2 separate regions of the Homo sapiens genome follow, and region 1 is linked to region 2. Evidence: fine-mapped expression QTL. A gene starts in region 2. The other region holds a variant in brackets. All regions are shown on one strand. Distances are from middle to middle. Region 1 overlaps CPAMD8 (C3 and PZP like alpha-2-macroglobulin domain containing 8). Region 2 holds the start of SIN3B (SIN3 transcription regulator family member B).

Region 1 (5,373 bases), 130 kb after region 2:
AGAAGTACATGTGCAGGTCTGTTACATAGGTAAATGTGTGTCATGGGGGTTTGTTGTACAGATTATTTCATCACCCAGATACTAAGCCTATGCCCAATAGTTATTATTTCTGATCCTCTCTGTCTTCCCATCCCCCATCCTCAAGTAGACCTGTGTCTGTTCCCCCTTTTGTTTCCATGTGTTCTCATCATTTAGCTTCCACTTATAAGTGAGAACATGCAGTATTTGGTTTTCTGTTCCTGCATTAGTTTGCTAAGGATAATGGGCTCCAGCTCCATCCATGTTTCCACAAAAGACATGATTTTGTTCTTTTTTATGGCTGCATAGTATTCCATGGTATTTCTGTACCACATTTTATTTATCCAATCTGTCATTGATGAGCATTTAGGTTGATTCCAGGTCTTTGCTATTGTAAATAGTGCTGCAGTGAACATTTGTGTGCATGGGTCTTTATGGTAGAATGATTTATATTCCTTTGAGTATATACTCAGTAATGGGATTGCTGGCTCAAATGGTAGTACTGTTTTTAGTTCTTTGAGCAATCACCACACTGCTTTCCACAATGGTTGAACTAATTTACACTCCCATCAACTATGCATAGCATCCCCTTTTCTCCACTACCTCACCAACATCTGTTATTTTTTTACTTTTTTTTTCTTTTTTTTTTTTGAGATGGAGTTTCCTTCTTGTCACCCAGGCTGGAGTGCAATGGCACAATCTCAGCTCACTGCAACATCTGCCTCCCAGGTTCAAACGATTCTCCAGCCTCAGCCTCCCGAGTAGCTAGGATTACAGGCGCCTGCCACTACACCCAGCTAATTTTGTATTTTTAGTAGAGACGCAGTTTCACCATGTTGGTCAGGCTGGTCTCAAAATCCTGACCTCAGGTGATCCACCTGCCTCGGCCTCCCAAAGTTCTGGAATTACAGGCATGAGCCACCACACTCAGCTTATTTGTTGACTCTTTAATAATGGCCATTCTGACTGGCATGAGATGGCATCTCATTGTGGTTTTGATTTGCATTTCCCTTTTTTTTTTTTTTTGAGATGGAGTCTTGCTCTGTCACCCAGGCTGGAGTGCAGTGGTGCAATCTCTGCTCACTGCAACCTCCACCTCCCAGGTTCAAGTGATTCTCATGCCTCAGCCTCCTGAATTACACCTGGAATTGCAGGTGTGCCACCACGCCCGGCTAATTTTTGTATTTTTAGTAGAGATGGGGTTTTGTCATGTTGACCACGCTGGTCTCAAACTCCCGACATCAAGTGATCCACCCGCCTCGGCCTCCCAAAGTGCTGGGATTACAGGTGTGGGCCACTGTGCCTGGCCTGATTTGCATTTCTCTAGTTCAGTGACATTGAGGTTTTTTTCATATGCTTGTTGGCTGCACGTATATTTTCTTTTTTTTTTTTCGAGATGGAGTCTCTCTCTGTTGCCCAGACTGGAGTGCAATGGCACAATCTCGGTTCACTGCAGCCTCCGCCTCCCAGGTTCGAGCAATTCTCCTGCCTCAGCCTCCTGAGTAGCTGGGATTACAGGCGTCCACCACCATGTCCGGCTAATTTTTGTATTTTTAGTAGAGATGGGGTTTCACCATATTGGCCAGGCTGGTCTCGAACTCCTGACCTTGTGATCCACCCACCTCAGCCTCTCAAAGTGGTGGTATTACAGGCATAAGCCACCACGCCCGGCCTGCATGTGTATCTTCTTTGAAAAGTGTCTGCTCAAGGATGTAACTTGTTAACTCTTTTACCTGGCAGCGTTAACATTCTACTTAAGAATAGAAGAAGCAAGGTATCAAAGGCTTGGCAGAGTCCATCTTTAAACAGTCGTGCCTCCTCTCCTGGATGCAGAAGGGATAAAGGCCTGCAGGGGCCACCCTATATCCCTCCCTTTGCTAATTTCCCTCCCTGGGTTTTACCACGTTCATCTTCATCATCACACTGAACTCTCCACCTCCTGCTCACCCATCCTCTGTTTCCTAAGGAGTGCCTTCATGCATTCTTGTTTGAGCCTCAGAAGCCTCACAGTTCACCCTCCTCAAAGGCTGCTCCTTCTCCTTTCTCAAAAAAAAAAAAAAGGCTTTCTCAAAATTTGGCAAAAATAAAAATGCTCCTATCCTTTCAACCATCAACACCTCTCCTAGGAGCAGACCCCGGAAACACCCGCAGACGTGTGTGCAAACACAGAGAGATGGAGTGGTTCATCGTGGCACTAGGAAAATTAGCAAATAGCCCAAATCTCCATCATTAGGAGGACTGGAAAATCAAATGATAGTATATTCATTGGTGGACTATTATATATTTGTAAAAAAAAAAAAGAGTGAGGTAAACATGCATTTACTGATATGGAATGATTTCCAAGACTTGTTGTTAACTTTCAAAAGAAATGTACAAAATGACATTATGGTATTCTTCTATTCTTTTTTTTTTTAATCCTACATATGCACAGAAGAATATCTAAGAAATTATTCAGACTGGGCACAGTGGCTCACACCTGTAATCCCAGCACTTCGGGAGACTGAGGTGGGTGGATCACTGGAGGTCAGGAGTTCAAGACCAGCCTGGCCAACATGGTGAAACCCCCTCTCTACTAAAAATACAAAAGTTAGCCGGGTTTGGTGGTGCAGGCCTGTAATCCCAGCTACTCAGGAGGCTGAGACAGGAGTATCACTTGAACATGGAAGGCAGTGAGCTGAGATCCCATCACTGCACTCCAGCATGGGCAACAGAGTGAGACTCCTCCTCAAAAAAAAAAAATTATTCAGCTTTCCCTTCTGAAGAAGGGAATGGAGGGTCTGAGGGTGGGAAGGAGACTTAAATTTCATTATATATCCTCTTCTACTGCTTGAAAAAAATGTTAACCACATTTACATGGTTAAAAAAATATGTTGGGGCTATTCCAAGATGGCCAAATAGGAACAGCTCCAGTCTGTAGCTCCCAGTGTGATTGACACGGAAGATGGGTGATTTCTGCATTTCCAACTGAGGTACCTGGTTCATCTCATTGGGACTGGTTGGACAGTGGGTACAGCCCATGAAGGATGAGCCGCAGTAGGGCGGGGTGTCGCCTTACCCGGGAAGCACAAGGGGTCAGGGGATTTCCCTTTCCTAGCCAAGGGAAGCCGGGATAGACTGTACCTGGAAAAACAGGACACTCTCGCCCAAATACTGAGCTTTTCCCATGGTCTTAGCAACCAGCAGACCAGGAGATTCTCTCCCATGCCTGGCTGGGCGGGTCCCACGCCCGCAGAGCCTTGCTCACTGCTAGCACAGCAGTCTGAGATCGAACTGCGACGTGGCAGCCTGGTTGGGGGAGGGGTGCCCACCATTGCTGAGGCTGGAGTAAGTAAACAAAGTGGCTGGGAAGCTTAAACTGGG[C/A]GGAGCCCACTGCAGCTCAGCAAGGCCTACTGCCTCTATAGACTCCACCTCTGTGAGCAGGGCATGGCTGAACAAAAGGCAGCAGACAGTTTCTGCAGACTTAAACGTCCCTGTCTGACAGCTCTGAAGACAGCAGTCATTCTCCCAGCATGGCGTTTCAGCTCTGAGAACGGACAGACTGCCTCCTCAAGTGGGTCCCTGACCCCCATGTAGCCTAACTGGGAGACACCTCCCAGGAGGGGCCGACAAACACCTCATATAGGCGGGTACCCCTCTGAGACGAAGCTTCCAGAGGAAGGATCAGGCAGCAATATTTGCTGTTCTGCAATATTTGCTGTTCTGCAGCCTCCACTGGTGATACGCAGGCAGACAGGGTCTAGAGTGGACCTCCACCAAACTCCAACAGACCTGCAGCTGAGAGACCTGACGTTAGAAGGAAAATTAACAAACAGAAAGGAATAGCATCAACATCAACAAAAAGGACATCTACACCAAAGCCCCATCTGTAGGTTACCAGCATCAAAGACCAAAGGTAGATAAAACCACAAAGATGGGGAGATACAAGAGCAGAAAAGCTGATAATTCTAAAAACCTGCGCGCCTCTTCTCCTCCAAAGGATAGTAGCTCCTTGCCAGCAATGGAACAAAGCTGGACGGAGAATGACTTTGACAAATTGACAGAAGTAGGCTTCAGAAGGTTGGTAATAACAAACTTCTCTGAGCTAAAGGAGCACGTTCAAACCCATCGCAAGGAAGCTAAAAACCTTGAATAAAGGTTAGACGAATGGCTAACTAGAATAAACAGCATAGAGAAGAACTTAAATGACCTGATGGAGCTGAAAACCATGGCACGAGAACTTTGTGACGCAGGCACAAGTTTCAATAGCCGATTCGATCAAGTGGAAGAAAGGGTATCAGTGATTGAAGATTAAATTAATGAAATAAAGCAAAAAGACAAGGTTAGAGAAAAAAGAGTAAAAAGAAATGAACAAAGTCTCCAAGAAATATGGGACTATGTGAAAAGACCAAATCTACGTCTGATTGGTGTACCTGAAAGTGATGGGGAGAATGGAACCAAGTTGGAAAACACTCTGCAGGATATTATCCAGGAGAACTTCCCCAACCTAGCAAGGCAGGCCAACATTCAAATTCAGGAAATAAAGAGAACACCACAAAGATATTCCTCAGGAAGAGCAACCCCAAGACACATAATTGTCAGATTCACCAAAGTTGAAATGAAGGAAAAAATGTTAAGAGCAGCCAGAGAGAAAGGTCGGGTTAACCACAAAGGGAAGCCCATCAGACTAACAGCAGATCTCTTGGCAGAAACCCTACAAGCCAGAAGAGAGTGGGGGCCAATATTCAACATTCTTAAAGAAAAGAATTCTCAATCCAGAATTTCATATCCGGCCAAACTAAGCTTCATAAGTGAAGGAGAAATAAAATCCTTTACAGACAAGCAAATGCTGAGAGATTTTGTCACCACCAGGCCTGCCTTTCAAGAGCTCCTGAAGGAAGCACTAAACATAGAAAGGAACAACCAGTACCAGCCACTGCAAAAATATGCCAGATTGTAAAGACCGTTGATGCTATGAAGAAACTGCATCAATTAATGGGCAAAATAACCAGCTAATATCATAATGACAGGATCAAATTCACACATAACAATATTAACCTTAAATGTAAATGGGCTAAATGCCCCAATTAAAAGACACAGACTGGCAAATTGGATAAAGAGTCAAGACCCATTATTGTGCTGTATTCAGGAGACCCATCTCATGTGCAGAGACACACATAGTCTCAAAATAAATGGATGGAGGAAGATCTACCAAGCAAATGGAAAGCAAAAAAAGGCAGGGGTTGCAATCCTAGTCTCTGATAAAACAGACTTTAAACCAACAAAGATCAAAAGAGACAAAGAAGGCCATTACATAATGGTAAAGGAATCAATTCAACAAGAAGAGCTAACTATCCTAAATGTATATGCATGCAATAC
Region 2 (5,373 bases):
CTCCATTTTTCTTTCTTTTTAATGTTTTTGTACAGATGGGATCTTGCTATGTTGCCTGGGCTGGTCTCAAACTCCTGGCCTCAATGCATGCCCCCACCTTGGCCTCCCAAAGTGCTGGGATTGTCAAGGGCTCATTTGTTACACAGTCATAGCAACAGAAATTTAGGAACTGTTACATGTATACCTTCTCTTTAAAGTATTTGTTACATGTGAAACTTTACATTTGTGTGATTACTAGATTCCTGTCTATCCTGAGAGACTAAAAGCTCTTAACGGCCAAATTTGCGTTCCTTTTTACCATTCTATTCCTGACACTTAGCAAGGTGCCTGGTAAATGATGCACTCGATGCCAATTTACTCTCAACTTTCCTGCACCTCTTCACTTATAAAAAGAGAAAGCACTTGGTCATTAATTGAACGTTCACTTATTTGATGAATGCTGACTGAGAGACTGTGTCAGGGATTTGTATTAGAGACGGACACAAAACAAATATGAAATACAAGGGACTGAGGGGAGACATAGAAGGGGACTGGGAACACTTCCTGAGGGAAAGGGATATTTGGGCTGCGTTTAGAAGGATGTATAGGTGTTTTCTGAATAACAAAGAGGCATGACAGTACTTCTGGCAAAGGAAATGGTGAGTGCCAATGCTTGGGACCAGGAAGCAGCCAGGTTGGTCAGGCAATTGTGTGAAGTTCTGCACAGAGGCAGGCAGTTTGCTTGGAAAATCCTGCAGGAAAAGGTTCCTAAGGACCAATTCTGACAGCCTGCAATGTAGGTGCTTAGATTTCATCTCATTAGAAATAGGAAGACCTTGGAGGTTTGGAAGGAGTGGTGGAAAAAGTGGAGTTTTTTGTTTTTCTGTTTTTTTTTTTTTAAGAGATGAGATGCTCTTTAAAAAAAAAAAAAAAAAAAAGCACTGCTATGCTTCCCAGGCTGGGGTGTGCAGTGGCAAGATCATGGCTCACTGCAGCCTTGAACTCTTGGGCATGAGCAATCCTGCCTCAGCCTCCCGAGTAGCTGGGACTAAACGTGTGCACCACCACGCCCAGCTAATTTTTTCATTTTATTTTATTATTTAATTAATTAATTAATTAATTTTTTGAGACAGAGTTTTTGCTCTTGTTGCCCAGGCTGGAGTGCAATGGCGTGATCTTGGCTCACTGCAACCTCCGCCTCCCGGGTTCAAGCAATTCTCTTGCCTCAGCCTCCCGAGTAGCTGGGATTACAGGCATGCGCCACAAAGCCCGGCTAATTTTGTATTTTTAGTAGAGACGGGGTTTCTCCATGTTGGTCAGGCTAATCTCCAACTCCAGACCTCAGGTGATCTGCCCGCCTCGGCGTCCCAAAGTGCTGGGATTACAGGCGTGAGCCACGGCGCCCAGCCAATTTTTTCATTTTCTTTTTCTTTTTTTCAAGGCCCGGCTAATTTTTTGTATTTTTAGTAGAGACGGGGTTGCACCGTGTTAGCCAGGATGGTCTCTATCTCCTGACCTCGTGATCCGTCCGCCTCGGCCTCCCAAAGTGCTGGGATTACAGGCGTGAGCCACCATCCCCAGCCTAGAGTTCTTGATAGTATCAGGGCTGAGAAAGTACCAGAGTTAGAGCCAGGTGGGGTGGCACTAAAAGTACAAAAAATTAGCAGGGCGCAGTGGCGGGCGCCTGTAGTCCCAGCTACTCAGGAGGCTGAGGCAGGAGAATGGTGTGAACTCGGGAGGCGGAGCTTGCAGTGAGCGGAAATCGCGCCACTGCACTCCAGCCTGGGCGACAGAGCGAGACTCTGTCTCAAAAAAAAAAAAAAAAAAAAAAAAAAAAAAAGAAAGTACCAGAGTTAGGAGGCTCCTAAACTGGTCCAGATGGGAAGTGACGGGGCCAAGGATAGGGAAGTGAAGATGGGAGGAGTAGGACTAACTTAAAGGCCATTTAGCAAAAATTCACCACGCAAGGCCCTATATTAGGGCGCTGGGGGCTCATACCTCATCGTCCCGTCAACTCTATAAAGCAGGGGCCAACAAACTTTTTCCATAAAAGGCCAGATCGTAAATACTTCAGGGTCTGCAGATCTGTAGGATCTTTAGCAACTACCTACTCTGTTGTAAGGCGAAAGCAGGCAGAGAAGCCAGGTAAACGCGTGGGCGTGTCTGTGTGCTAATAAAACTTTATTCAGGGACCCTCAAATGTGAATTTCACAAACTTTTCACAGGTCATAGACTATTCTTCTTTGGATTTTTCCCCCGGCTATGTAAACATGTAAAAATAATTCTGAGCTTGCGGGGCCGGACAAAGTAGGCGGCGGGTCTTGGCTCGCCTACCCCTGCTATATAAATCATTAATTATGATACCAATCTTAAGGAGAAGGTCTTCAGAAGAGTCCCTCAAAGAGCACCGCCCCTCAACGTCATCAAACCCCGCCTCCAAAGGCGGAGGCTGCGCATGCGCGGCAGGACCTCGGGCGGGGGCGGGGCGGGGCGCAGCTCCGACTTCGGACATGGCGCACGCTGGCGGTGGCAGCGGTGGCAGCGGTGCCGGCGGCCCCGCGGGCCGGGGGCTGAGCGGCGCCCGCTGGGGTCGCTCGGGCTCCGCAGGCCACGAGAAGCTGCCGGTGCACGTGAGTGGCGTCCCCGCCCTCCCTCGGGGAACCCATCTTCTGGACCCCGCGGGCGGGCGCCCCTCACCCAGGCCCCGCCCGGCCCCAGCCCCACCTCGGCCTCCCCTCTGCACTGCCCCGGACCCCTCACCCCTCACCTCTCACCTCGGCCCTCCGAAAGCCCAGCCCATCCCCTTCCCCTCAGGGACCCCGGCCCCTCGTCCCCTCGTTCCGCGGCCAGGGCCCACCGGGACCCTCCCCCTCTCTGCAGGTAGAAGACGCCCTCACCTATCTGGACCAGGTGAAGATCCGCTTTGGCAGCGACCCTGCCACCTACAACGGCTTCCTGGAGATCATGAAGGAGTTCAAAAGCCAGAGGTACCAGCGGGGCCCCTCTCCACCTCAGGGGACCCCCCTGGGCCGGAATCGGGCCTAGCGGGGTGAGACCTCCCCTCTCCAGCCTGCCCCCTTAGCCGGGTGACCTTGCGCAGGTTGTCCAATCTCTCAGAGCCCTAGCTCCTTCTCGTAACAAAAATGGAAATGGGTAGTACCCACCTTGTGGAGCTTTGTGGGGATTCCTGGAAGCAGGACAGGGATCTGGGGGGAGGCAGGGAGGGCGAGGCCGTGCACACTCATAGAGTCAAATCCTGCCTTGATTTAATATGTTGATTTTTATATTAGTTTTGTTCATGAAAGATTTGGTGGGACCCATTTTGATTTTTATTTTCAAGCGCTGTAAAATGTTATTGTCTTGATGATTGAAATTTTTGGCACCCTCTTCCCCTTTAATCTTGTCCTCAAGATGCTTCTCTGGGCTCACTGTGGTCCCAGGCCTGCTTGGAAGTAAGACGCATAAAATGCTTAGTAAGGGAGCTGGCACACAGAAAACGTTTAAAACACATGAGATGATTTTGCAGGCCCAGAATCAAGGAAGATTACAGATAGATGGGAAACCCTGGGATCATGCCCTTGTTTTTATAGGAGACTCACTGAGGTTTGGAGTGGGTAAGGGACCCACCTAAGTGGCAGAGGTGTCACTAGAACTCAGACCCTCTGACTCAGATTCTTGGAAGTCACATGCTTACCATACTGCTGCCCCCTCTTAGGAAACATGGTGGGGCTGGCCTGGTTTCCTTCCGGGAGCCCAGTGCTAAGGGCTGGGCTGCAATGCAGCCAGAAGGGAGACCCCATCTCTCCCCTCCTATTTTTCTTACACCTTTCCCATTCTTGGCAGTACCATTGGTATTTATGCATTGCAATTGTTTGCTCAGATGGAAACCTGTGTCATAGTCATCTCTATCTGATACAAAATGAGGGAAGTTTTCACATTGCTTAGAGGACTTTGGCCTCCTGCCATTTCTTGGAGTCCAGGCCTTGCGGTTGGCTCTCCTGACATTTTCAGAACCGAGTACCCATTCTTGGAGTGTTTTAGGGGAGCTGAGCGATGTCAGTATTCTCTGGTTCTCACCAGGAGGGAACAGGGAGCTCAGGCCTAGCCAGTCAGGAGATAGGTCATGGTGTACAGATGCTATCACATGGGGGCACTTTTTTTTTTTTTTTTGAGATGGATTCTCGTGCTGTCGCCCAGGCTGGAGTGCAGTGGTGTGATCTGGGCTCACTGCAGCCTCCGCCTCCCGGGTGCAAGTGATTCTTGTGCCTCTGCCTCCTGAGTAGCTGGGACTGCAGGCACGCACCACCACTCCAAGTTCGTTTTTGTATTTTTAGTACAGACAGGGTTTCACCATGTTGACCAGTCTGGTCTCGAACTCTTGACCTCAGGTGATCTGCCTGCCTCGGCCTCCTAAAGTGCTGGGATTACAGGCATGAGCCACTGCGCCTGGTGGGTCACATTTTAGGTTCCTTTGTTGTCTGTTGAGAAGGTTTTTATGTGGCAGTATCAAGGGAGTGGGGAATAGATTATATTTTTCATTTATTTCCCAAGACCCTTTTGCCCACTTCCGTTGTTTCTTCTAGCATCGATACTCCTGGAGTCATCAGACGTGTCTCGCAGCTCTTCCACGAGCACCCTGACCTCATTGTTGGATTCAACGCTTTTCTTCCCCTCGGATATAGAATAGACATTCCCAAGAATGGCAAGTTAAACATACAGTCGCCTCTGACAAGCCAGGTATGCCACTACAGTGGTTCGGGTGATCTCAGCCTTCACCGAGTATGTCTTGCTACTCAGGTTGGGCCACGTGTCTCTCCTGTATCATTGCTAGAAAGCCACTTAAGATCTGTTCTTTTTCTAGACGTGCTCATTGCTTCTAGCACAAATCAAAATAGATATGGAAACACCTACACAAGCAGCCTCTGCCTCCCAAATTGATCTGTTTGGAAGATTTAAATCAAGAGTGGATGTCAGGGAGGTATCCTCCTAACGCAGAATTTTGTGTGAAGTCTAAATAACCACCTCAGCAGTTGCTGAGGTCTTGGCTTGAGGCTTTCCCAGCGAGCATACCAGGCAGGCTTGCCCTTGTATTTAAGCATGTCCTCGTCTGCCTCTGATCACTCTCAGTACCACCTACAAAATAAAGTGGTCGAGATGGTGTGTGAGTAGCCACGTTTATGTTGGCTGTGTTTCATTTAATTGTTGATAGGATCATTAGCTCAGCTGGGACTCCTGGCTTTGCTTTGGTCCCTTTTTTCTTGGGTGATAGGTGCTGGCCCTCTTTTTTTTTTTTTTTTTTTTTTTGGAGACGGAGTCTGGCTCTGTCACCCAGGCTGGAGTGCAGTGGCGCAATCTCAGCTCAGTGCAACCTCCGCCTCCCAGGTTCAAGCAATT

What was found. PIP is the estimated chance that this variant, and not a neighbour inherited with it, causes the effect.
Region 1: its variant is the best candidate, but not a certain one, in a credible set for the expression of SIN3B in whole blood (INTERVAL, PIP 0.63).

What each region holds. Positions count from the first base shown.
Region 1 is chr19:16,958,148-16,963,520 of GRCh38, forward strand. All of the region lies in intron 18 of CPAMD8 (C3 and PZP like alpha-2-macroglobulin domain containing 8), which reads right to left. Among named protein-coding and RNA genes, the nearest start is that of CPAMD8, 66 kb to the right of the region's middle. RefSeq lists enhancers at 2,634-3,193, 3,194-3,751. The variant C/A (reference allele first, on the strand shown) is at 3,379.
Region 2 is chr19:16,826,932-16,832,304 of GRCh38, forward strand. SIN3B (SIN3 transcription regulator family member B) reads left to right here and starts at 2,467. Exons shown (of 19, transcript NM_001297595.2): 1 at 2,467-2,609; 2 at 2,860-2,966; 3 at 4,563-4,716. The coding sequence starts at 2,490. RefSeq lists an enhancer at 2,193-2,694 and a silencer at 2,435-2,614.